Linked DNA regions of Homo sapiens: region 1 is linked to region 2. The links come from fine-mapping of genetic effects on gene expression. A gene starts in region 2. The other region holds a variant in brackets. All regions are shown on one strand. Distances are from middle to middle. Region 1 overlaps FAM151B (family with sequence similarity 151 member B). Region 2 holds the start of ZFYVE16 (zinc finger FYVE-type containing 16).

Region 1 (12,964 bases), 92 kb after region 2:
TCAGCCTCCCAAAGTGCTGGGACTACAAGCATGAGCCACTGTGCAGGGCCAACAATAGATTGTCAGTGTAAATAAAACAGCCTTCTATTGTAAGAAGATGCCATTAGAACTTTCATTGCTAGAGGGGAAAAGCCAATATTTGGCTTAAAATCTTCAAAAGACAGGCTGACTTTCTTGTTAGGGCTAATGCAGCTGGTGACTTTAAGTGGAAGCCAGTGCTCATTACTATACTGAAAATCACAGGGTCCTTAGGAATTATGCTACATCTACTTCTCTGCCTGTGCTCTAGAAACGTAACAACAAAGCCTGGATGACAGCACGTCTGTTTACAGCATGATTTACAGAATATTTTAAGCCCACTGTGGGGACCTGCTGCTCAGGAAAAAAAATATTTCTTTCAAGATATTACTGTTGATTGACAAGGCACCTGGTCACCCAAGAGCTCTGATGGAGATGTGCAAAGAGATTGATGCTGTTTTCCTGCATGCTTGCATCTATTCTGCAGCCCGTGGATCAAAGGGTAATCTTGACTTACAAGTCTTATTATTTGAGAAATGTTTTGTAAATCTATAGCTGCCATAGATAGTGATTCCTCTGATGGATGTGGGCAAAGAGTCATCATCCTAGATTCCATCAAGAAGATTTGTGATTAATGGGAGAAGGTAAAAATATCAACATTAACAGGAGTTTGGAAGAAGTTGATTCCAGCTCTCATGGGTGACTTTGAGGGATGCAATACTTCAATAGAGGATGTAACTGCAAATGTGATAGAAATAGCAAAAGAGGGCAGGGCGCAGCGGCTCATGCCTATAATCCCAGCACTTTGGGAGGCTGAGGCAGGCGGATCATGAGGTCAGGAGATTGAGACCATCCTGGCTAACACAGTGAAACCCCGTCTCTACTAAAAATGCAAAAAATTAGCCGGGCGTGGTGGCGGACGCCTGTAGTCCCAGCCACTCGGGTGGCTGAGGCAGGAGAATGGCATGAACCCAGGAGGCAGAGCTTGCGGTAAGCCGAGATGCGCCACACTGCACTCCAGCCTGGGCGAAAGAGCGAGACTCCGTCTCAAAAAAAAAAAAAAAAAAAAAAAAAAAAAGAACTAGTAAGAGAACTAGAATTAGAATGGAGCCTGAAGATGTGACTACATTATCGCAATTTTATGATAAGACTTTAATGAACTAGGAGTTCCTTCTTATGTATGAGCAAAGACAGTATTTTCTTGAGATGTAATCTACTTCTGGTGAAGATGCTGTGAACATTGTTGAAATGACCACAGATGATAAAGAATATTACATACACTTAGTTGTTAAAACAGCAGCAGAGTTTGAGAGAATTGACTCTCATTTTGAAAGTTCTCCTGTGGGTAAAATGCTATCAAACAGCATTGTGTGCCACAGAGAGATCTTTCATGAAAGGAAGAATCCACTGATGTCGATAACTTCATTGCCTTATTGTAAGAAATTGTCACAGCCACCACAGCCTTCAGCAACCACCACCCTGATTGGTCAATAGCCATCAACATTGAGGCAAGACCCTCTACCAGTTAAAAGATTACAGCTAGCGGAAGGCTCAGATGATTGTTAACACTTTTTAGCAATAAAGTATTTTAAAATTAAGGTATGCACATTTTTTTAGACATAATGCTATTGTACAACTAATAGGCTACAGTATAACAGTGTAAACATAACTTTTATATGTACTGGGAAACCAAAAATTGTGTGACTTGCTTTATTGTGATACTCACTTTATTCCAGTGGCCCATAACTGAACCTTCTATCTCAGATGTACACCTAGACATCTGTCAAAACCTATAAAATGTATGATACCAAGAGTGAATTCTAATGTAAACTATGGACTTTAGTTAACAAAATGTCAGTATTGGCTCATCTATTCTAACAGACATACCACACTAATGCAAGATGTTAAAAATTGGGGAGCTTTAAATAAAAGCAATTTTTAAATTACCAAAACAGCCAAAACCAGGGAAATCGAGGGAAGAGTGGGGATGATATGGGAACTTTGCTCTTTTTGCTTAATTTTTTTTTTTTTTTTTTTTTTTTTTTTTGAGACGGAGTCTTGCTCTGTCACCCAAGCCGGAGTGCAGTGGTGTGATCTTGGCTCACTGCAACCTCTACCTCCTGGGTTCGAGCTATTTCCCTGCCTCAGACTCCTGAGTAGCTGGGACTACAGACGTGAGCCACCACACCCAGCTAATTTTTGTATTTCTAGTAGAGAAGGGGTTTCAACATATTGGCCAGGCTGGTCTCGAACTCCTGACCTCAGATGATCTGCCCACCTCGACCTCCCAAAGTGCTGGGATTACAGGCGTGAGCCACCATGCCCAGCCTAATTTTTTTCTGTAAATGAAAACTGCTCAAAAGGCCAGGCACGGTGGCTCACGCCTATAATCTCAGCACTTTGGGAGGCCAAGGGCAGCAGATTGCTTGAGGCCAGGAGTTTGAGAACAACCTGGCCAACATGGTGAAACACCATTTCTACTAAAAATACAAAAAGCAGCCGATGTGATGGTAATCTCAGCTGCTCAGAAGGCTGAAGCATAAGAATTGCTTGAACACAGGAGGCGGAGATTGCAGTGAGCTGAGATCATGCCCCTGCACTCCAGCCTGAGTGACAGAGCAAGACTCCGGCTCAAAAAAAAAAAAAAACAAAAACAATAAAAAAACTACTCAAAAACTCAATCTTAAAAAAGTTACAACTATTTTTGCCTTTCTCTTGGCCCTGTTTTCAGAGTTACAGCCTGTTTAAATAATAATACTAAGACCTTAGATCATAGGTAATTGGATCCTCTGTAAGTTTTAAGATATATACAGTCGTGGCTTAAATACAAACTAACAATTTCACTTAGTAAAAGGGTAAGGAAAACTTCTTACTTTAAATTTTTTTAAATTCTAGAGTCCTGGTATTTTATTATTACTCTGTAAGTTGCCTTTATAAAAATTCTGAATGCAGTATGTTTAGTTGAAAAGTGCTGTGGAAGGAAGGGGAACATCACACACCAGGGCCTGTCGTGGGGTAGGGGGAGGGGGGAGGGATAGCATGAGGAGATATACCTAATGTAAATGACGAGTTAATGGGTGCAGCACACCAACATGGCACATGTATACATATGTAACAAACCTGCACGTTGTGCACATGTACCCTAGAACTTAAATAAAAAATAAATAAATAAATAAAAAGTGCTGTGGAAATATCCAATATGAACCATTAACCAACATTTAGGTTTTTCTGGTAATGTAATGCTTATCAGTCCTCTAAATCATTTGGTGTATCTCAAAACCTTCATTTTTAACAGCCACGTTAGTCACATATTCTATCATGCATATGTACTGTGATTTAATTATTTTCCTATTGTTGGACATTTGTTATAGCCAATCAATAATGTGCCTTCTAAAATGGCTACCTTAATATTTTAAAGAATGATGGCCATGTGTTGCCATCTCAGTATGAAAGGTCTATGACTCTATTATATATGCCAAATAGGGCCACGTGTTTTCAGTGAGAGACTGCTTTGGGGATAGTGGATCCTCCACCTAACTGTCCTTTTTTTTTTAAATTCTGCAGCCCAGCGTTAGAAGTGACTGCTAAGTCCCATGTATGTTAGTTAGAATTTGTCTTTATATGCCCCTCCATTCTCTGATATCTTATCAGCAGTTTCCGATAGCCATTTTTAGGTTTAAGGTTTTTGGTTTTTTGGGGGGCTTTTAAAAAAGATGTTAGCTCATGTCTTTTATTAACTCATAGACAATTACTTGTCTTCTGGTTTGTTGAAGCAGTAAGTCAGACAACATTTGCCACAATAATGTCTGTCAAAGTAGCTTGCCATAAACACTCCAGCACCATCTGAATGGCACTCTCGACAAAGGTGTCTAATTTTGCCATTCTCTTCCACCTTATAGTATTTCAGGACAGCCAGCTTCATCTTCTTTCTCTTGTGTTTATTATTCTTGGGAGTGGTGTAAGACTTCTTCCTTTTCTTAGCACCACCACAAAGTCTCAACCCAAGATGAAGAGTAGACTCCTTTTGAATGTTGTAGTCAGACAGAGTACCTCCATTTTCCAGTTGCTTGCCAGCAGAGATCCGTCTTTGCTGATCAGGAGGAATTCCTGGATTTTGGCCTTTACCTTTTCTATTGTGTCCGAGGGTTCAACCTTGAGGGTAGTGGTCTTCCCCGGAAGGGTTTTTACGAAATCTGCATTTTGGTGGCAGCTCCACCACAGATGGCAGATGGAAAAAAAAAAAAAAGTAGTTTTAGGTTTTTAACTGTAGTTAGGCAGAGTTAACAAACAAATAATTAACAGAGGAAAGAATCTCATGCGTGGGGAATTTGCAGGCACTTGCTAGGCTCTTAATAAATGTTTGAAGCATGAACAAGGATTAGGGAGGTAAAATTATGGACAACTTTTTTTCAGCATTTTCTTCTTTTATGTTATGATATAGTATGGAATAGATCTGGGTTCAGATATTTTTGCTACCACTTACCTTAGTCTTGGTTAACTCACAAGTTTTAATGCTTAATCAAGAGAAAATATGTTATACCAAAAAGTAGTTGAAAGATATGAGAATTATGTATATTGCACACGCTAGATAAACTTATGAATGCTAATTCAAGAGATTACTTGCTCACTCATATAGATGTTGCTGAGAATAATCTGAAGGTAGATATGCAGTAAGATATGCAATTTAAATATTAAATTGTTAATATAAATATAGAATGGGGTTTCAGGTAGAGAAAACAATTAAGTGTGTAAAACTTAGAATTTTAAATATAGCTTTGGCTTTACATCAGTTTTCCTTATATTTCTGGACCAGCATTGTAGAGAACATCATATGAAATTTCCAGCTTTTAAATATCTGCTTTAGTTTTGTTTTCTTCCTGCATTCTTATGCTTCTGATGTTCAGACTATCCTATATGTCTACTAATTATTACATTATATAATATATAACATGTTTATATATATTATATACTTGCCACATCATAATACTTGTTCTCTGTTTTTAAAATCTTATATTTTTCCCAGCCTAACTATTTTGTTATTATCCCTCAATATCTTGTCTGTTCTTTGTTAATTTTTTTTTTTTTTTTTACTCTATAACTCAGCAATCCCTTTTCCGGGCACATACCCAAAGGAAATGAAATCACCACTTTGTAAAGATATCTGCACTCCCATGTTCATTGCAGCATTATTTACAGTGGCCAAGGTATGGAAGCAACAAGTGTTTGTTGATAGATGAATGAATAAACAAACTGTGGTACATAGATAAAATGGAATATTATTCAGCCCTAAAGAAGAATGAGAACTTACCATTTTCCACATCATGGATGAGCCCGGAGGACATTATGCTAAGTGAAATAAGCCAGACACAGAAAGAAAAATAGTGTATGATCTCACTTATATGTGGAATAAAAAAAAATCAAATATAACAGAAATAGATGACAAAACAATGGCTATGGGGAGGGGGAAGCAAAGGAAATGGGGAGATGTAGGTTAGAGCATACAGAACAGATATATAAGATGAGCAAGTTGCCTCTTTTTCCGGCTGGAACCATGGAGGGTGTAGAAGAGAAAGAGAAGGTTCCTGCTGTGCCAGAAACCCTTAAGAAAAAGCAAGGGAATTTCGCAGAGCTGAAGATCAAGTGCCTGAGAAAGAAGTTTACCCAAAAGATGCTTTGAAAGGCAAGGAGGAAGCTTATCTGTGAAAAAGCAAAACACTGTCACAAGGAATATAGGCAGATATACAGAACTGAATTTTGAATGGCAAGGATGGCGAGAAAAGCTGGCAACTTCTGTGTACCTGCAGAACCCAAAATGGCATTTGTCCTCAGGATCAGAGGTGTCAGTGGTGTGAGCCCAAAGGTCCGAAAGGTGTTGCAGCTTCTTCGCCTTCATCAAATCTTCAGTGGAACCTTTGTGAAGCTCAACAGGCTTCAGTTAACATGCTGAGGATTGTAGAGCCATATATAGCATGGGGGTACCCAAATCTGAAGTCAGTAAATGAACTAATCTACAAGCGTGGTTATGGCAAAATCAATAAGAAGCGAATTGCTTTAACAGATAACACTTTGATTGTTCCATCTCTTGGTAAATATGGCATCCTCTGCATGGAGGATCTGATTCATGAGATCTATACTGTTGGAAAACACTTCAAAGAAGCAAATAACTTGCTGTGGCCCTTCAAATTATCTTCGCCATGAGGCGGAATGAAGAAAAAGACCATCCATTTTTATTTTATTTTATTTTATTTTTGAGACAGAGTCTCACTCTGTCACCCAGGCTGGAGTGCAGTGGCATGATCTCAGCTCACTGCAACCTCTGCCTCCCATGTTCAAGCGATTCTCCTGTCTCAGCCTCTGGAGTAACTGGGATTACAGGCGTGTGCCACCACACCTGGCTAATTTTTTTTTTTTTATTTTTGTTAGAGACAGGGTTCCACCATGTTGGCCAGGCTGCTCTCCAACTCCTGACCTCAGGTAATCCGCCCACCTCAGCCTCCCAAAGTGCTGGGATTACAGGCGTGAGCCACCGCGCCCGGCCGAGAGACCACCCATTTTGTAGAAGGTGGAGATGCTGGCAACAGGGAGGACCAGATCAACAGGCTTACTAGAAGAATGAAATAAGATGTCTACCA[T/G]GATTATTTTTCTAAGCTGGTCAGTTAGTAAACAGTACCTGCTCTCAAATTGAAAAAAAAAAAAAAAAAAAAAGATGAACAAGTCAAGATCTAATGTGCAACATGAGGACTCCAGGTAATAAAATTGTACTGTATATAAGGGATTCGTGTTAAATGAGATTTTAGCTGTTCTTGCCACACAGAGAAAACAGATATGTGAGATGATGGATATGTTAATTTGCTTCATTATAGTAACCTTTTTACTATCTATCTATCTATCTATATATATATATCACATAACAGCATATGTGTATCTTAAATATACACAATGAAAGTGATTTTAAAAATTTTACCCTATAAAAAACAATATCACTTTTCATGTAAACACTGTTATTTTAGGATCTTGGAGTGAAAATATACTGGAATATTTTCTGAGAAATAGCCAGATTACAGCAGAAGACGGTGCTGAGATCACCTGGTATCATGCAGCTAACCACAAGGCACAAACAAATGAGGCACTGAAAAGTAAGTCAGTACAGTTACTTGTAATTTACTTTGGATAATAGATTAATTCAACTCCTTTTTTGATATCTAGGTATATTTGCAGATACTAGAGACAGGTGATCCAAGTGTAAGTTCCAGGCTGACATGAGTATTTTATTTATTTTTATTTATTATTTAATTATTATTTATTCATTTTTAGAGACATAGTCTCTCTCTGTTGCCCAGGCTGGAAAACAAAGGTGTAATCACAGCTCATTGCAGGCTCAAACTCCTGGGCTCAGGTAATCTGTGAGCCATCACACCAGGCTGAACATTTTTATAAAGTGTTTCATTTTGTTTACAAAATGGACAAATTGCATAATGAAAGAATTTTCTTATTTTCTAGAAGCAATTTGCCTGTTATGTCTGATTCGAAACTCTCATATATTATTATATTTTCTTATGTATGTAGTGATTTGAGTAAAACTTTTAAGATCAGGACCATGTATCTTACATATTTTTATGTCTTTCATCATGTACTAATGAGAAACCCACTCAATATTTGTTCAATGGATGGATGAAGGCATTGTATACCAATTTATAATTAATAAATAATTGGGCAATATTTATGCCTAAGCTAGAAATCAAGTCTTTGGTTTACTGATTCAACCTGTAATCATTGTATGTATATCCCTTCATTATACAGATGAACATTATAGCAGTGTTTCTCAGCCTTTTCCTATAAAGTGCTCATGTTGGCTGCAGCAGGAAAGGAGAAAGAAAGCATATCACTACAGGGCCGGGGCAGAGCTTGCAGTATCTGGTCCAACAAGAAATTACCTTGAAATTCCATATTTTATTATAAAAGTGTATGCATTTTTGCATCCTAATTCATTATATATCTCAGCTTCTTTTATTGTCAAAACACTGTTTTAAATTGTATTTTTCTCCTCAAAAGGAAGAATTTTGTCTTGTTTCATGTTGAATCCTTAATGCCTGAAACAGTGCGTAGCATATAATAACTACACAGTGATTATTTAGTAAATGAATTTTAGCAAAATTGATGCCTCAGGAAATGGTTGCTTAATGATTGTCAGGAACTGTAAGGAGTCAATGCTAATGAGTACAGGGTTTCTTTTTTGGATGATGAAATTTTTCTAGAATTAGAGAGTGGTTATAGTTACATAACCTTCTGAATACGCTAAATAAAAACCACTAAAGGGTTCACTTTAAAAGGGTGAATTTTATAGTATGTAAATTATGTCTCAGTTTTTAAAAATGAAAAAAATGATAGGAAAGGAAGAAATAAAACCTTTATTCACAGACAGTATGATTGTGTTTATAGAAAACAAAAAAGATTCTATAGATAAATGATCATAATAAATAGGTGAACTTAGAAAATCTCAGGATGTGGTCAGGGCGGTGGCTCATGCCTGTAATCCCAGCACTTTGGGAAGCCAAGTTGGGTGGATCATTTGACCCCAGGAGTTGAAGATCAGCTTAGGCAACATAGTGAGACCCTGTCTCTACAAAAAATAGAAAAATTAGCCGGGCATGGTGGCATGTACCTGTAGTCACAGCTACTCAGGAAGCTGAGTCAGGAGGATCGATTGAGCCCAAGAGCTGGAGGCTGCAGTGAGCTGTGATTGCACCATTGCACTCCAACCTAGGTGACAGAGTGAGGACCTTGTCTCAAAAAAAAAGAAAGAAAGCAAAGAAAAGAAAATCTCAGGATTCAAGGTCAAAATAGAAAATAAATTCTGTTTTTTTCTAATAACTGAAAATCTAGAAATACAACTTAAAAAATTTTACAATTTGTATAATAATAGTATATACAAAGCCCTTTTGCCATCATAGCCTGGGGATGGTGAAAAGTTACTTTTGCTATGCTGAACAGGAGTTGATGAAGCAAGGCAAAGTCTGGCCATGGTCACAAGCTGGAGCTCCTGTGGGTGAGGCAACGTATGCCTTGATATACAGACTTCCTCCTCTTGCTGTCCCTGTTATATGAGACTATTAGAACCATGCAGTCTCCCAAGCAGAAGTGTGCCCTGACTTTTAAAAGTCTTCTACCCACAGGCTATGGATGGAAGACTAGGGAGAGGGGCTGGGCAGCTTCTGTATCTTCTGTGTCTCCAGGCCAGGTCTCCCTCTCTTGTTAGGACTGTTAATATTAGTCCATCCAACTGCTTATTGATGTTTCCACTTAGAGATCTCTCATGCGTCTCAAATTTACGTTATCCGAAATGAGATTCTTGACTATATTTACTAACCTGCACTTCCTGTGATCTTTCTTGTCTCAGGAAATGGCACCACAATCTACTTAGATGTTTCAACCAGAAATCTAGGAGTCATTTTTTCGCTCCTTTCTTTATTCTTGTATCTAATATCCAATCATTATGATTCTATTCCAAAATACATTTTGAATTAGTCCACATCTTTCTTTCCATCTTTCTTATCATTATCCTAGAAGCCACCAGGATTTCTTGCTCATACTGCTGTAGTTCCCCCTTTTTTTTCATGTAGGAGACCTTAGGAACATACTTTACATGGGCCCAGAGACTCCTCAACTTGCCCATTTACTGATTTTTTTTCTATCTATTGGAAATAATGGAATTAGCAGACTGCGACTATTACTCTTTTTTTTTTTTTTTTTTTTTTTTTGAGATGGAGTCTTGATCTGTCGCCAGGCTGGAGTGCAGTGGCACGATCTATGCTCACTGCAACCTCTGCCTCCCGGGTTCAAGCCATCCTCCTGCCTCAGCCTCTGAGTAGCTGGGACTATGGGCATGTGCCACCATGCCCAGCTAATTTTTGTATTTTTAGTAGAGATGGGGTTTCACCATGTTGGCTAGGATGGTCTCCATCTCCTGATCTCCTGATCTGCCCTCCTTGGCCTCCCAAAGTGCTGGGATTAGACTATCACTCTTAAATGAAAGATTCCAAGCTTTTGTGCCCCTTTATAACCACACTGATAAAGGAGACCTACAACCCCCTTCCCCAACTTCATCCTGGGAAAATAATAAAAGACTAGATCATCTATCTTTCTGCAAATTCACTTGCCCTGTTGTCCTTGCAGAAGTTTGGCCATAGGGTGAAAGAACAACTTCTCTGTATCTGCCCTCCCCCTGGCGAGATAAGCCACACAAACATCAGGACTCAGCACTATTCACATGGTTGAAGAATTCCACCTTTGGCAGAGGGCTGGAAGCTGTTTGGATAGTACCTGGACATTGCTTAGAATTGCATTTGATAGAGAATAAAAGGAGTATAAAACTCTTTGATTGGTCTTGGTGTTTTGGTGTTTATTTCTTTATTTTTATTTTTTGTAGAGAGTCTGGTCCCAAACTCCTGGCTGCAAGCAGTCCTCCTGCCTCAGCCTCCCAAAGTGCTGGGATTACAGGTGTGAGCACCACACCCAGCCATTTTGTTATTTTATGCTTTGCCTCACTGTAATTAAAAGATCCTAAATATGGTATAGCTTAGAGAAGAGAGACATAGCAAACATCCATTGAGTTCTTTTTTTTTTTCTTTTTTGAGACAGAGTCTCACTCTGTCACCCAGGCTGGAGTGCAGTGGCACGATCTCGGCTCACTGCAAGCTCCGCCTCCTGGGTTCACACCATTCTCCTGCCTCAGCCTCCCAAGTAGCTGGGACTGCAGGCACCCGCCATCACGCCTGGCTAATTTTTTGTATTTTTAGTAGAGACGGGGTTTCACTGTGTTAGCCAGGATGGTCTCGATCTCCTGACCTCGTGATCTGCCCGCCTCGGCCTCCTAACTTGCTGGGATTACAGGCGTGAGCCACCGCACCCAGCCACATCCATTGAGTTCTTACTACATCACCAGTCCCCTTTTCTTTCTTCCTATAAGAATTTTTTTTTTTTTTTTTTTTTTTTTGAGACAGAGTCTCGCACTGTCATCTGGGCTGGAGGGAAATGGCACAATCTCGGCTCACTGCAACCTCTGCCTCCTGTATTCACGTGATTCTCCTGCTTCAGCCTCCCGAGTAGCTGGGATTACAGGCTCACACCACCACACCCGGCTAATTTTTTGTATTTTTTGTAGAGACGAGATTTCACCGTGTTGGCCAGACTGGTCTCGAACTCCTGACCTCATGATCCGCCTGCCTTGGCCTCGCGAAGTGCTGGGATTACAGGTGTGAGCCACCACGCCCGGCCAAGAACTTTACTTTTATTAAGGTATCCATTTCTGCTCCATACAAGCATATGGAAACTGGTTCCATTTGTAGCTCCAGGGGTGCATTACAATAAGTTAATCAGCACTTGAAGTTTTCCTGATGATTCATATTGCTCCCATGGTGGGCAAGTGATCAAACTGGGCTCAATTAGACTCAAGTAAAGTAATTATAATTACCAAAGAAGTTTTATATCTTAAAATTGAAGTATGTGAACATGAAAATATGTAGCCCTAGTGATTATTGGTAGCTGTCTTAAAATCATGAGATGAAATTAGCCTTACGATGAAGACGACACCAAGGACAGTGAAGAAAAGAGACATAAAGATCACAATAACATCACTGAGCTGCTGATTGTACCACACTTAAAGCTCACCTGACCCCTGGACTTTTAGTTATTTGAGATGATAAATCTACTAGCTTGAATCTGAATTTCTATTTATTTGCCGCCAGAAGCATCCAGTAGATCTATGAGTCCATCCTAATTGGATAGATTATTTTCCCTGCTTCCACACTTGCCCCTGTCTATTTTATTTTCCACCCAGCATCCAAAGTGGTATATTTAAACATAAATCAAGCCTCTTTATTGGTCTCAAATGGTGTTCCATTTAAAATCTTTAATATAATTGCTAGATAGAAACATGTTTGGTTCTACTGCTCTGGTTTCCAAGAGGAGAGATTTTTTTCCCTAAAGGCTTTGACCTCTTGCCTCACTGTTTATTTCTCTCATAGAGGTTGAGAGATTGTTTTGATTTGTAGTTCTTGACTGGGTGGAGCTAATCTATCAAATGCACTAGGCCAAGCAAGGTGGCTCACGCCTGTACTCCCAGCACTTTGGGAGGTCGAGACCAGCCTGGCCAACATGGTGAACCTCCGTCTCTACTAAAAATACAAAAATTAGCTGTGCATGGTGGTGCATGCCTGTAGTCCCAGCTATTTGGGAGGCTGAGGCAGGAGAATTGCTTGAACCCAGGAAGCAGAGGTTGCAGTGAGCCAAGATCATGCCACTGCACTCCAGCCTGGGTAACAGGGTGAGACTCCATCTCAAAAAAAAAAAAAAAAAAATGTGCTGGACAAGGGAGTGAGCTCTTCTCTTCCACTGGGAAGCAGCCATCTGGATATTTGTATTTGTTAGAACTTTGCTTCAAAGGGGCTGTTCCAAGATTTGGACTAGAGGGTGACTGTGGCAGTTAGCAGGTAGCAGGCACAGGCTTATTTAGTTCTCAACTAAGCTGTGTCCTCTGACCTAGCTTTAGAGGTAATACAAGTATACTTTGATCCCTGTCTACTTAACTTGGCTATTTTATTTCTCAAGATCCACTTGGAGGCCAGGTGTGGTGGTTCACGCCTATAATCCCAGCACTTTGGGAGGCCAAGGCAGGTGGATTGCTTGAGACCAGGAGTTTGAGACCAGCCTGGGCAACATGGAGAAACCCCGTCTCTACTAAAAATACAAAAATTAGCTGGGCATGGTGGTGCATGCCTGTAATCCCAGCTACTTGGGAGGCTCAGGCAGGAGAATTGCTTGAACCCAGGAGACAGAGGCTGCAGTGAGCTGAGATCATGCCACTGCATTCCAGCCTGGGCGACAGAACGAGACTCTGTCTCAAAACAAACAAACAAAAAACAGATCCATTTGGAGAAAGGGGTGCTAT
Region 2 (12,964 bases):
AAAAATGAATAAGTGTTTGTTGAATTAAACACCAGTTATTCCTCTTTTTTACTGTTGATATAGAAAGCTCATAAGATTTATTATGTTTATCAACAAATCATTGCTATGTCATTAATTTATTGTTTGTCATATATTTCTAAAGAACTCAGAAAAAATATTGGTTATTTGAGCTTTTTGACTTTATAACTTTAAGTAAATACAGTTGCTGTATTAAATACAAGGATCTACAGCGATTATCTGAGCACCACAACTAAAACTTTCCTTAGAGAATTGAAAAGCCTCTCTCACAAGAACCAATACTAAATTATAGCACTTTGTACAAAAGGAGAATGGGCTGTTGAGAGTGTGTTCTTCAGTTTGCTGTTTTGATAAAGGCCTTGACCAGTAAGTGTTGCTGTACTTAACAAAGTAGTTATAACAGCCTGTACTTAACAAAGTAGTTATAACAGCAGGGAGAAATCCTGAACTTCAGGTTTTGTTTATGGATGAGCAACAATGTTCATACTGCGAGAACACCTGGTTTACTTATAAGATAAAGGCTGAAAACAGTAGGTGATCAATAAATGACAGCTATTTATAAAGTGGTTCTTAGTAATAAGTGATGATACGTGTGTCTGGTGCAACTGAACAATAGGAATGGAGCATTTTTCTGTGCCAGAGTACAACTGACCAGCTGTCTGCTCCATAAAACTGGTCATTGTAGATTTTTTATCTCTAATCTAGTTAACTTTGGGTACTACTTGGTACAAAGTTTAATTTTCATTGGTATAGGGCCTTATGTAGAAGTTCAAAACCCAGTTCTGAATTTCTGAACTCACATTTGTGCCGCTGTGGTCATCAGAAAAAAAAAAAAAAAAGGAACTGTTTACTAGGAATTGGAAGAAATATACTAGCTTTAAACCACTCACTGGCTAAATCAGGGTTTCTCAACCTTGGCACTGTTGATATTTTAGGCTGAAAACTTCTTTGTTGTTGGGGGTTCTCCTGTGAATTGCAAGACAGTTAGCGGCATCCCTGGCCTGTATCTATTAGATATCAGTAGCATTCTTTCAGTGGTGACAACCAAAAATGCCTCCAGAGATTGTCAAACGTCCTCTGGGAGGCAAAATCACCCCTCACCTCCACAGAGAACTATTGGGCTAAAGTAGTAGTCATTGATTTGAACTTTGGTTTGTTGGTTGATTTCATCTATTTTTACTACTTTATAGATCAGAAGTTTTGTGGAACCCAAATTAAATACTCTTTCAAAGCATAATTAGGAAAGGTTATTATAATTCTAAACATCTACTAAAAGTATTGCAATTGCTTTGTTAGCAGATTAAATTTTTAGTAGACATTTGGCATTAAAAGGTAATCAAAGGCTACAAATTTTATATGAACAAACTTATTAATTCTCCTTAAAAAACAAAAACAGAAACAAAAACAGAGCAAACGAGTCTTCATATAGTGACAAACATGTGGAGTGGTCATCAAGTCCCTGTATCTTATTCTCAGTTTAGTAGACTAAGAAATTCAGTTTTAAAATGTATTTGCAAGTAATTGTGCTCCAGGGAACTTATACTTGCATTAGCCAAATTCATAGGCTACTGATATAACAACATGGATGTAACTGATCAATTTATAAAAAGAAATATAACCATCAAGAATAGCAATTGTTAGGCTGGCACAGTGGCTAATGTCTGTAATCCCAGCACTTTGGGAGGTTGACTACCTGATTACCTGAATTTGAATTCTAATTGGGAGGATTGCTTGGGCCCAGAAGTTTGAGACCAGTATAGGCAACATAGTGAAACCTTGTCTTTAAAAAAATAAAAATAAAAATTATCTGGGCATGGTGATGCACGCCTGTGGTCCCAGCTACTCTGGAGGCTGAGGTAGGAGGATCACTTGGGCCCCAGGAGTTGGGGCTGCAGTGAGCCATGATCCAACCACTGCATTTCAGCCTGAGTGATATAGTAAGATCCTGTCAAAAAAAGAAAAAAAAAAGAATAACAGTTATTCATCATTTACAGTCAGTGCTTCAGTTAAGTACTTTATGTGGATTATCTCAATCAATGTATTAGTTCTATTAGCATTTGACTACAGGAGCATCAAGCTTAGAAAATTTAGGCCACACAACTAATAGGTTATAGAATTAGAATTCAAATTCAGGTAATCAGACTCTAAAGACCATACTTGAAATGACAGGGGAAATGGATTCTTAGGTTTCCTGGTCAACTTATCACACTTGTTACATTAGAGGTTTTTTTCTTTTTCCCCAGAATATAAAGGTAATATATAGATGTTGTAGAAAATGTAGACTGTCCAGGATAATAACATCTACATTCTAATCAGATAGACATGACTACTATCAACATTTTGATATACTTTCTTCACTCTTTTACATACATTGTATACTATAGCTGACCTCATACTACATAGGCAATGTTAAATATTTTTAAATATTTAAAATGTTTTTTCATGAGGTAATTTCCTCAGGCCATTAAAAATTCTTTGTAAACATAATTTTAATAGTTTTAATCACATACATGCAGTAATTATTTTAACCATTCTCTTAATGGTGGATTTTCGACTTTTATCAATTTACTTACTATGGTTAAGTATCTTTCCATAGAGATCTTCGTCTTCTGGACTACCTTCTTATAACTTCCAAAAGAGAAATGATCAAATTGGGTCATGTGAACACTCATAAGGTTCTTGATATGATTTGACAAATAACTTTCCAAAATCTTTGTCCCAATTTATATCCCTCCCAGGGTATAAGTGTCCACTTCACTCTTCTGTCACCAATCGAGTTTATTCACATTTTAAACAGATTGGGTAATTAGATGCCAGACAACCTCTTTTTTGTCTCTGTTTATTATTAATGACTTTGAATATTGATTGGTAAAATGTGTAGTAGGCATTTAAATTTCATATTTTGTGAACTGACCATTGTATATACTTTCCCCATTGATCTATTTAAGGTGTTTGTGTCTTTTTTCTATTCTCTTTACCCTCACACTTTACCGTATAAATACTTCTGTCCCCAGTATGCATTTGTATATGTGAGTCTCTGCTACTAGACTGTGGTTCCCCATGGGCAGTGGCCCCATTTTATTTTATCTGTGAACAATGCCTAACACATAGTAGGAAAAAGGCATACTGTAGTTTGTAGAATTATTCTTAGGATTAAATGAGATAACGTAAGCAAAGCATCTAACACACTGTCACAAAGCAGATGCTCAATACACACATTACTTTAGGCAATCAAAAGTTTGGCTATTTCATTTTGTTGTTTAGGAAAACCAAGGTTAAAGATTAAGTATCTTTCAAAGATCAGGAACTATAGTTGTAAACTGCAGATTTAAGATGCGAACCCTGATTCTCAAATCTTTCATCACAAATCACATGTGGCTGGAATACTCGAAAAATTATAATTCTTGCAATTTTTTTTTTTTCTTTTTTGAGACGGAGCCTTGCTCTGTCACCCAGGCTGGAGTGTGGTGGCTCGATCTTGGCTCACTGTGACCTCTGCCTCCTGGGTTCATTCAATGGTCCTGATTGTCCTGCCTCAGCCTCCCAAGTAGCTGGGATTACAGGCGCCCGCCACCACACCCAGCTAATTTTTGTATTTTTAGTAGAGACGGAGTTTCACCATGTTGGCCAGATTGGTCTCGAACTCCTGACTTCAGGTGATCCGCCTGCCTCGGCCTCCCAAAGTGCTGGGGTTACAGGCGTGAGCCACTGCGCCCGGCCAATTCTTGCGATTTTTGAAAGATCAGTATGAACTGTGAGCTGTTTAACCTTTGAGGAACTGCTTTTTCCCTGTATCTGTCTGTATCTGATCCCACATGTATGTCTCTTCCCTTGTTTTTATTTTTTATTTTTTTAGAGACACGGTCTGGTTCTGTTGCTCAGGCTGGAATGCAGTGTTGCCATCAGAGCTCACTGCAGCCTTGACCTCCTGGGCTTAAGTGATCCTCCCACTTCAGACTCCCAGCCAGTAGCTGGGACTACAGGCACGCGCCAACACGCCTGGCTAATTTTTTCATTTTCATTTTTAGTAGAGACAGGGTCTTGCTATGTTGCCCAGGCCTGTCTGGAACTCTTGACTTCAAGCGATCCTCCCGCCTCGGCCTCCCAAAGTGCTGGGATGACAGGCGTGAGCCACCGCGCCGGGTCTCATTTAAATTTATAGGAAACTTGTGGTAAAAATAGCAAAACTCAACAAGCAAATATACATCAAGTGAGTGACATTTTATTTCTACATCAGATAAGTCAGCTTTTGCTTTTAGACAGGGAGACAGCTGTTCTACCAGCTGCTTTAAAATAAAAATGCAGAACTAACGCAGCGAAGGGAAGGAAAGTGTGGCTGGGAATGTCCAGTCAGCTGGAGGGGCTTGGAGCTCGGCGTTGGCTGGGAGCATTTTTATTGCTGCCGGGAGGAGGAAGGGGAAGCGGGGGAAGCGGGGGAGGCGGGGGGGCAGCGTGTTGTAAAATCAGTTTGAAGTAAACAAAAAGTTATGTTTTCCGAGGGGCCAGCAGCGCGGAGAGCAGGCCTAGCCCGCTGCCGGGAAGGCGGGTCTGTCCAGTAGAGACCGGAACGCCGCGCAGGCTCAGCAAAGGGCTAAGGCTGGAGCCGGGGAAGCTGCCTCTAGGTTAGCGAAGGGTAAAGGAAGTCAGACACTGACGCGAGTGGCCTCCCGATCCCGCAGTCGAGTGGAGAACCGAGTCCCGACCTAAGGTCGAATCATCAGGCGTCCCCGTCACCCAACAACCCACTCAGGCACTTCCGGTAAGAAATCTAGTGCCCTTGGCTCGGAACCTGCGTCGTAGTGCGCAAGCGCCCCGGGCCTGGAGACGGCCGCGGATGCCGAGGGAGGGGGCGTGTGAGCCGAAGAGGAAAGCGTCCTCTGCGCCTGCGCTCTCTGCGCTGCCCGGTGGGGCGGGGAAAGAAGCCCTGAGCCGGGATCTGGCACTCCCAGGACTCCCGGCCGGGGTAGCTCTTCACTCCTCAGCGCGACGTCGTGTCGAGTTCCCAAAAAGCTCCGCAGGGGCTGTAGGGAGGTAAGAGCCCCCCGTGACCGGTCGTCTCGGCCTCCCCTCAGCCCTGCTGTTCCCACAGGGGGGCGGGGTGACCGCTGGACCCGCCGACCTGGGCGCTGGGTCTGGCCCTCTTCCTCTGGGGACAGAGCCTGGGCCCCGACCGATTCCTTTTCCGAGCCCCCGGAGCTGGCCGGGGAACCCTGGCCCTCCAATCTGATGTCCCCTCCTGGAGCCTGAAGGGCCAGACCGGACTGGACCGGGAGGGCAATCACGGCGGCTGTTTGCCCGGTTCCCCGCTCCCGGGCCGCCGGAGTGTTCGGCGCTCCTGGGGGAGAGACCCCAGCGGACGGAGGGAGAAGCGCCCTGGCGCCGCCGTCCCGCCTGGGGAGGGGCTGCGACTGCGGAGGGGACTGTGGTTCTTCAGGAGTGGCAGAGGCTCGGTCCCCGCAGAGGAGTCTCATCGCCGCCGGTGCTCTCGCACTGTCCATTCCCGCACCCATGCATTTTCTCTTGGTTAGAGACCAGAAGGATGCAGTGGCCGTCTTTCCCGCTGCCTTTCCTTTGGTACTTTTGAGAACTCCAAAAGAGGACCTTATTTTTAACTCTTATTTGTACTATCGTGATTGCAAATATTATGTTCCAGACTAAGGATGTTCTTTCTTATTAGTTTGACTTGTATGAAAACCAGTCCATACATTTGATATTAAGTTAATCTTTTCAATTCAAAAAATAGGCACTTTGTTGATTCAATCAGATTCCTCCATTTATTCACTTGAGCTTGTCGTCTCTTGAGTTGGCGGGAGTTTAATGGTTTAATCCAGTAGAACTATATATAATTTTTCGCCTAATTTCTTCCTTTTTTTCCTCTCCTGGATATTAAACCGCATGCTTAGTGGCAAAAATTGAAAAAATAGAATAAAGAATAAGGAAAAATGATCAATCATAATTCCACCATGTAATAGTAATCAATTACTTATAATATTTTGACTTTTTTCCTTTGAGTCTTTTTTTCCCCTGTGCATTTTCTTGAGATGAGATTTTATATCGTTGGATTGTCTGCTTTCCTTGATTTAAATTACGTTGTAAGCATTTCCCCATGTTTTTAAAAAGCTTCATAAAAATGACTTCTTGATTATACATGAGCAAAGTATCTTTTGAAACAGTTATATTACAGATAAAGCCAAATCCGCATTAATTATCCTCAATCATAATGTTACATGATAGAATAGTGCTACAGTTCATTTAACATTATGATTGGGGATAATTACGCTTAAAAATTATTGAGGACCAATAGAGTTTTTGGTTCCTAATGCTGCAGTATATTTACCATTTTGGAAATTAAAACTCAGAAAATTGAAAATGTTTTATTCATTTAAAAATCACAGACTCATGTATTAAATAATTTTTTAGTGAAAAGTAACCATTTTCTAAAACAAAACTTAGAAGAGGAGCGTGGCATTGTTTCAAATTTTTGCGAATCACTTTAATGTCTGGCATTATAGAAGACAGCTGGATTTTCATGTTTGCTTCTGTTCAGTCTGTTGTGCTATCTGGTTTAGGTTGAAGCATATGAAGAAAACACCAGCCTTGAACAGATACGTAGCAGGAAAAGCGAGGATCTTACAAGCCTGCTGAAAGGCTCCTGGGGACATCCAGGGGTCCTGAGACCACAGTTTGAGAAAGCTGATTTAACCATTTTTGGATTGGTGGGCTGTTAGGTTGTTTAAAATTTTACACTGTTACAACCCTTGCAACAGTGAAAGTTCTTTGTGATGTTTTCTGGTGTATGCGTGCTAGTGTTTTTTCTGTAAGTAGAATTGCTAGGTCATAGAGTTTTGCTTTTTTTTAAGTTTGTTAAACACATTACTTTTGATGCCTGTATAATTTGCTTTTGTGCACTAATGTTGGTGTTTAGATTGTTTCAACTAATGATTTGGTGAAATATCTTTGCATGTTTTTAGTTGTTTTGAATTATTTTCTTTTTGAGGGGGCTGGGGGGAGTCCAGTAAAAACCAGACAACTGCCAGATACATTTTAAGAGAGCTTTAACACATGGATTCTTTTCTAAAATTTCTAAAAAGATAATTGTTAGATCAAATATTAGGAATCTTTCTCAGGCTATTGGTACATATTGTCACATTGTTTTCATGGGAGATAGTACCAGTTTGTTTCCTGTCAGCAGTGTCTGACATGCTTTAAAAAAAAAAATCACACCCTTACCAACATCGAGTACTTTTATTATTTTAAAAAATTGTTTCAATTTAGCAGGCAATAAATGGTATATGTTCTAATTCTCATTACTTTGATAGTGCACTGAATAATTTTCATAATCTTACTAGTTGTCTGTTGATGTTATTTGCTCGTTTATAGTCCAGTATCCAAGTGTTTTTCTAACACATTTTTATCTTCTTAAATATATTGTAAGGAAACGTGCTGTACTTTGTTTGTTTGTTTTTTAAGACAGAGTCTCGCTCTTTCGCCAGGCTGGAGTGCAGTGGCGTGATCTCGGCTCACTGTAACCTCTGCCTCCCGGGTTCAAGGGATTCTCCTGCCTCAGCCTCCTGAGTAGCTGGGACTACAGGCACGCGCCCCCATGCCCAGCTAATTTTTGTAGTTTAGTAGAGACAGGGTTTCACCATGTTGGCCAGGATGGTCTCGATCTCCTGACCTTGTGATCCGCCTGCCTCGGCCTCCCAAAGTGCTGGGATTGCAGGTACGAGCCACCTCACCCGACCTTAGGAAACGTGCTGTACTTTTTTTTAAAGGAAAACAACAAAATTATGTTTTCTCGGTTTACAAGAGCACATGCCTTTTTTTTTTAAATTTATTTTATTTTTATTGATTTAGTTTTTTGAGATGGAGTCTCGCTGTGTCGCCAGGCTGGAGTGCAGTGGCACCATCTCGGCTCACTGCAACCTCCGCCTCCTGGGGTTCAAGCGATTCTCCTGCTTTAGCCTCCCAAGTAGCTGGGGCTACAGGCACGTGCCACCACGCCCAGCTAATTTTTTTTTTTTTTTTTTTTTGTATTTTTAGTAGAGACAGGGTTTCACCATGTTGGCCAGGATGATCTCGATCTCTTGACCTTGTGATCTGCCCACCTCAGCCTCCCAAAGTGCTGGGATTACAGGCATGAGCCACCACGCTGGCCAAGTATATGCTTATAAAAAAAAAGTAAAATAGTATGAAGACATATCATGTAGCTCTGAAAGGCTTACATAATCCCATTCCTAGATTTATAGTATTACTAACATCATTAATGTTTGTTCCTTCATATTTTTTTACTATGCATTTGTTAATTTTTTTTACAACTTATTTGTAAAAATAGGTTTGCACTATGCATAAAGTTTTGTGATTTGATTTTCTTTCATTTAACATTATATATTGGATATTTTTCTACTGAAGTACATATAACTGGGCAAAGTTTTATCCTGAGTGGTTTTAGGAACATGAGTTGTGATCTTTAGTTATCTGATGGCAGGCTCTTGTCCTCTTCTAAATATATTCTCTTCCTAGGTGATCTCATCCATTAACAGCTGTGTGTTGCCAGTTCCCAAATCTTTATCTATCTCAGACTTCTCTCCTGCATTCCAGATTCTTATATTCAGCTGCCTTTTGGATATCTCTCCCAGGATGTTCTCAAGGTACTTCAAACAGTCCAAACGTGAACTCATGTTTTCCCTTAATCCTGCTCCTCTTTGTATTGCCTGTCATGGTCAGTGGCACCACCATCTACCCTAGCCACTCATGGTGGAAACCTGGCACTAATCCAGCTTTCTCCCTTGCTTTCGGTCTCCAAAACTTCTCATTATTTTGCCACTTTTATTTCATTTTATTATTTTTATTTGAGACAGGATCTCACTCTGTTGTCCAGGCTGGTCTCAAATTCCTGGGCTCAAGCTAATCCTCCCACCTCAGGCTCTGGAGTAGCTGAGACCACAGGCGGGCATCACCATGCCTGGCTCATTTTAGCCACCTTTATATGTATTTCCTTTTTTTCTCCACTGCATTATCTCAGCTCAGGCCTTCATCTCTTACCTTAACCATTTTAGGTGTCTCCTTACTGTTGGTTTTGTTGGTTTTCTGGTTAATCTTCCATGTTACTGCCAATTTTTGTAATCATGAAGAGATTTTTAAAAACCATTTTATTGTAAATATTACGAAGATTTTTTCTTAAATTTAAAAATATATAAATAGCCAAGTGAGTAAAAATACTACCTAAAATAAGTTATATGTATACATAAATAAACCTATTTTAAAAGGGAGTATATCTTATATTTCTTTTATGTCTTATACTGAATATGGTAGATTATTGGCACAAAAAGTACATACTGATTGATTGAAATGGGAAATATACACAGCTTAATGAGATTTCATGTTAAAACATTTCAGTATACCGTATTTACATTGTCATATCATACCTTTTACAAATTATATTATCTTTTTTTATATCTTTCTTGGCACCTGAAATTACATAATGCTTAGTAGAGCATTGCTATATAGATAGGAATGTTTTGTAAATATATGTTATTTAATGAATTCCATAATTTATTTCTAAAAAATTCTCTGGCTTTTGCTAATAAGAAACTATTTCTAGACCTTTCAGTTTCTGTGCTTAATTTGTTAAATACATCCTGTATTCAGAGTTCCGTTACTACTACTTTTTACTATTATGTTTATTTTAAATTTAATGTTTATATTTATCGAAGGGATACCTGTACATAAACAGTCAAATAGTACTTCAAGGATTATAATGAAAAACTGTCTGGGTGTGGTGGCTCACGCCTGTAATCCCAGCACTTTGGGAGGCTGAGGCAAGAGGATCACATCAGCCCAGGAGTTTGAGACCATTCTGGGCAACATAGTGAGACCTTGTCTCCACAAAAAATAAACAAAATTAGCTGGGTTGTGGGGCACACACCTGTTGTTCCATTTACTTGGAAGGCTGAGGTGGGAGGATCGCTTGAGCCCAGCACGTGGAGGCTATAGTGAGCTAATATCGTGCCACTGCAGTCCAACTTGCGCAACAGAGTGAGACCCTGTCTCAAAAAAGAAGAGAGGGCTGGGTGCGGTGGCTCATGCCTGTAATCCCAGCACTTTGGGAGGCTGAGGCAGGAGGATCACCTGAGGTCGGGAGTTCGAGACCAGCCTGACCAATATGGAGAAACCCCATCTCTACTAAAAATACAAAATTAGCCAGGCATGGTGGCGCATGCCTGTAATCCCAGCTACTTGGGAGGCTGAGGCAGGAGAATCGCTTGAACCTGGGAGGCGGAGGTTGCAGTGAGCTGAGATCGCGATATTGCACTCCAGCTTGGGCAACAAGATCAAAACTTCATCTCAAAAAAAAAAAAAAGAAAAAAAAAAGAGAAAAACAACAATCTTCTGCCCCAGTCCTTCTCACCCCTGAATCCCACTCTCCAGAAGCAGTCTTTCTCAATCAGTGCTTTCTGTCTGAATCACTGAACAAGAAAAATGATTTGAGCAACTATTTTCTTAATTCTCCCAAAGAGGGTAGGTAGCTAATAATATGATGGATGCATAGGAGAGAAGTTAGTTTATTACATAAAATGGAAGCCTTAGGGCATTAAAGATTAATTCTCTCGCCGAACCTTAATTGAGAAAGGCTGCTCCAGAGTCAGTGACTTCAATTCCTTATCACTTCCAGTTTTTTAAAATGACATATTTAGATATATGGCGATATCCCCTCCCCATTCCCATCCTAATGCGATTTGAAGTATAGTTTACTCATTTCCTATTACAGAAGATGGGAGTTTAGGTTTTTTGTACCAACTCCTACCTTTAAACACTGCATTTCACTTCCCCTCTCCCCTCTATATTCCCAAATTAGTTACATGTTAACTTTTAGTTATTTGGTGTTTACCTCATTTTAACTATGTAAATATTGTATGTAGCTGAACAAGGTAAGTGTGAGGTTATTTCCTTTCTTGTATAATTTTTGTTTTTCCTAGTTAATATCTTAATTCTTTTGTACATGTACCTTTTATATTTCTTTATAAATAAATGTTTTATATCTTTTTAATGTGTCTTTTGTATTCTTTATTTGATCTATTAATCTCTTGAACCAGATACATCAGTCTCCTCTTAGTAGATTCAAACACATCTGATAATCTGTTTTGCGACATCTTTCCTGCCTCCATCTTGATGGGTTGCTCTCTAGGCCTGTTGCACAACTCTCTTCCTGGACTGCCCTTTTACAGTCATCTGTGAATTGCATTTGTCTCTTCTGTGTGGGTAGCCTCTTTTTCTTGGATTTCAGGTTTTCCTTTTTCTTGGTGTCTCCCTTATATTGGCAGAGTATGTTTTTGAGTAGCTTCCTGAGAGAGACAGAATGGGATGCACATATTTTGGGTTCTTGCATGGTCAACCATTTTTTTATTTAACCCTCACATTTATGATAACCAATCCTTTGATTGTGACCTGTTATATCTCTTTGGAAGCGTTTATATTTATTCAGCAAGTATGTATTGAGCACATTTTATGTGCCGGGCACTGGTCAAGACATTTTGAATATATAGGTGAACAAAAATACAAGATTCATGTCCTTATAGAGCTTAAATTCAGGGAGGGAGGAGTTGTTCAACAGCAAATATAATAAATAAATTATACAAAACATTGGGAGTTTGTAAAGTAAATAACTGCTTTAGAAAAGAGAAAAAAGAGCAGGCTGGGGTGGGAAGTTCAGGAATGTTGGGGAAAGGAGAGGTAGGGGATGCAGACTGTAGTATTAAATGGGGTGATCCTCCCTTCAACCATTCAGGTGTTCTGAAATTTCACAATGATGTTGGTTGGTAAGAGTTTTTCATTCATGTGTTGGGCCCCAAATGGGCCCTTTCCATTTGGAGACCATATCCGTGGTTTATTTGACAGTTTCTTCTTTCCCTCCCTTCCTTCTTTCTGGACTTCTTTTATTAGAATATTAAACCTCATTAGATTGATTCTCTAATTTCTAATATTTTCTCTCCTGTTTTCTATCCCTTTCTGTTCTGTTTTCTAGGATATTTTCTCAACTTTATTTTATAACACCTTGATTGCATTTTTAAAAATAAACATTTTATTTTGGAACAGTTTTAGATTTACAGAATTATTGCAGACAGTATAGAGTTCCTATATACTCCACACCCAGTTTATTATTAACATCTTAGATTAATATGGTACATTTGTTATAATTAGTGAACTAGTATTGATACTTTATTAACTAAAGGCTATACTTTATTCGCATTTCCTCATTTTTCCTCTAATATGCTTTTTCTGTTCCAGGATCCCATCCAGGATACCACATTACATTGAGTAGTCCTGTCTCCTTAGGCACCTCTTGATTGTGATAGTTCTCAGACATTCCTTGTTTTTGATGCTCTTGAAAGTTTTGAGGGTTACTGCTCAGGTGTTTTGTAGAATGTCAGTTGAGATTTGTCTCATGTTTTTCTCGTTATTATATTGGGGTAATGTGTTTCGGAGAGAAAGACAACAGAGATAAAGTACAATTTTCATCAATACATACTGTCAGTGTGACTTGCCACTTTTCTTTTTTTTTTGAGATGGAGTCTCCCTCTATCACCCAGGCTGGAGTGCAGTGGTGCGATCTCAGCTCACTGCAACCTCTGCCTACCGGGTTCAAGCGATTCTCCTGCCTCAGCCTCTTGAGTAGCTGGGATTACAGGCACGTGCCACCACACCCGGCTAATTTTTGTATTTTTAGTAGAGACGGGGTTTCGCCATGTTGATTAGGCTGGTCTCCAACTCTTGACCTTGTGATCTGCCCGCCTCAGCCTCCCAAAGTGCTGGGATTACAGGCGAGAGCCACCACGCCCGGCCAACTTGCCACTTTTAATGTTAACCTTGATCACTTGACTTGAGGTAGTGTTTGTTAGGTTTCTTCACTTTGAAGTTAGTATTTTCTTTTTTTCTCCCTTTCTGT

What was found. PIP is the estimated chance that this variant, and not a neighbour inherited with it, causes the effect. A credible set is the group of variants that fine-mapping cannot tell apart.
Region 1: its variant is the best candidate, but not a certain one, in a credible set for the expression of ZFYVE16 in whole blood (TOPMed, PIP 0.59).

What each region holds. Positions count from the first base shown.
Region 1 is chr5:80,494,764-80,507,727 of GRCh38, forward strand. FAM151B (family with sequence similarity 151 member B) reads left to right here. Exons shown (of 6, transcript NM_205548.3): 2 at 7,029-7,154. It also overlaps the pseudogene RPS27AP9 and the pseudogene RPL7P24. Among named protein-coding and RNA genes, the nearest start is that of FAM151B, 13 kb to the left of the region's middle. RefSeq lists enhancers at 2,435-2,935, 12,348-12,848. The variant T/G (reference allele first, on the strand shown) is at 6,651.
Region 2 is chr5:80,403,105-80,416,068 of GRCh38, forward strand. ZFYVE16 (zinc finger FYVE-type containing 16) reads left to right here and starts at 4,960. Exons shown (of 19, transcript NM_001284236.3): 1 at 4,960-5,049. RefSeq lists an enhancer at 4,922-5,720 and a silencer at 5,441-5,560.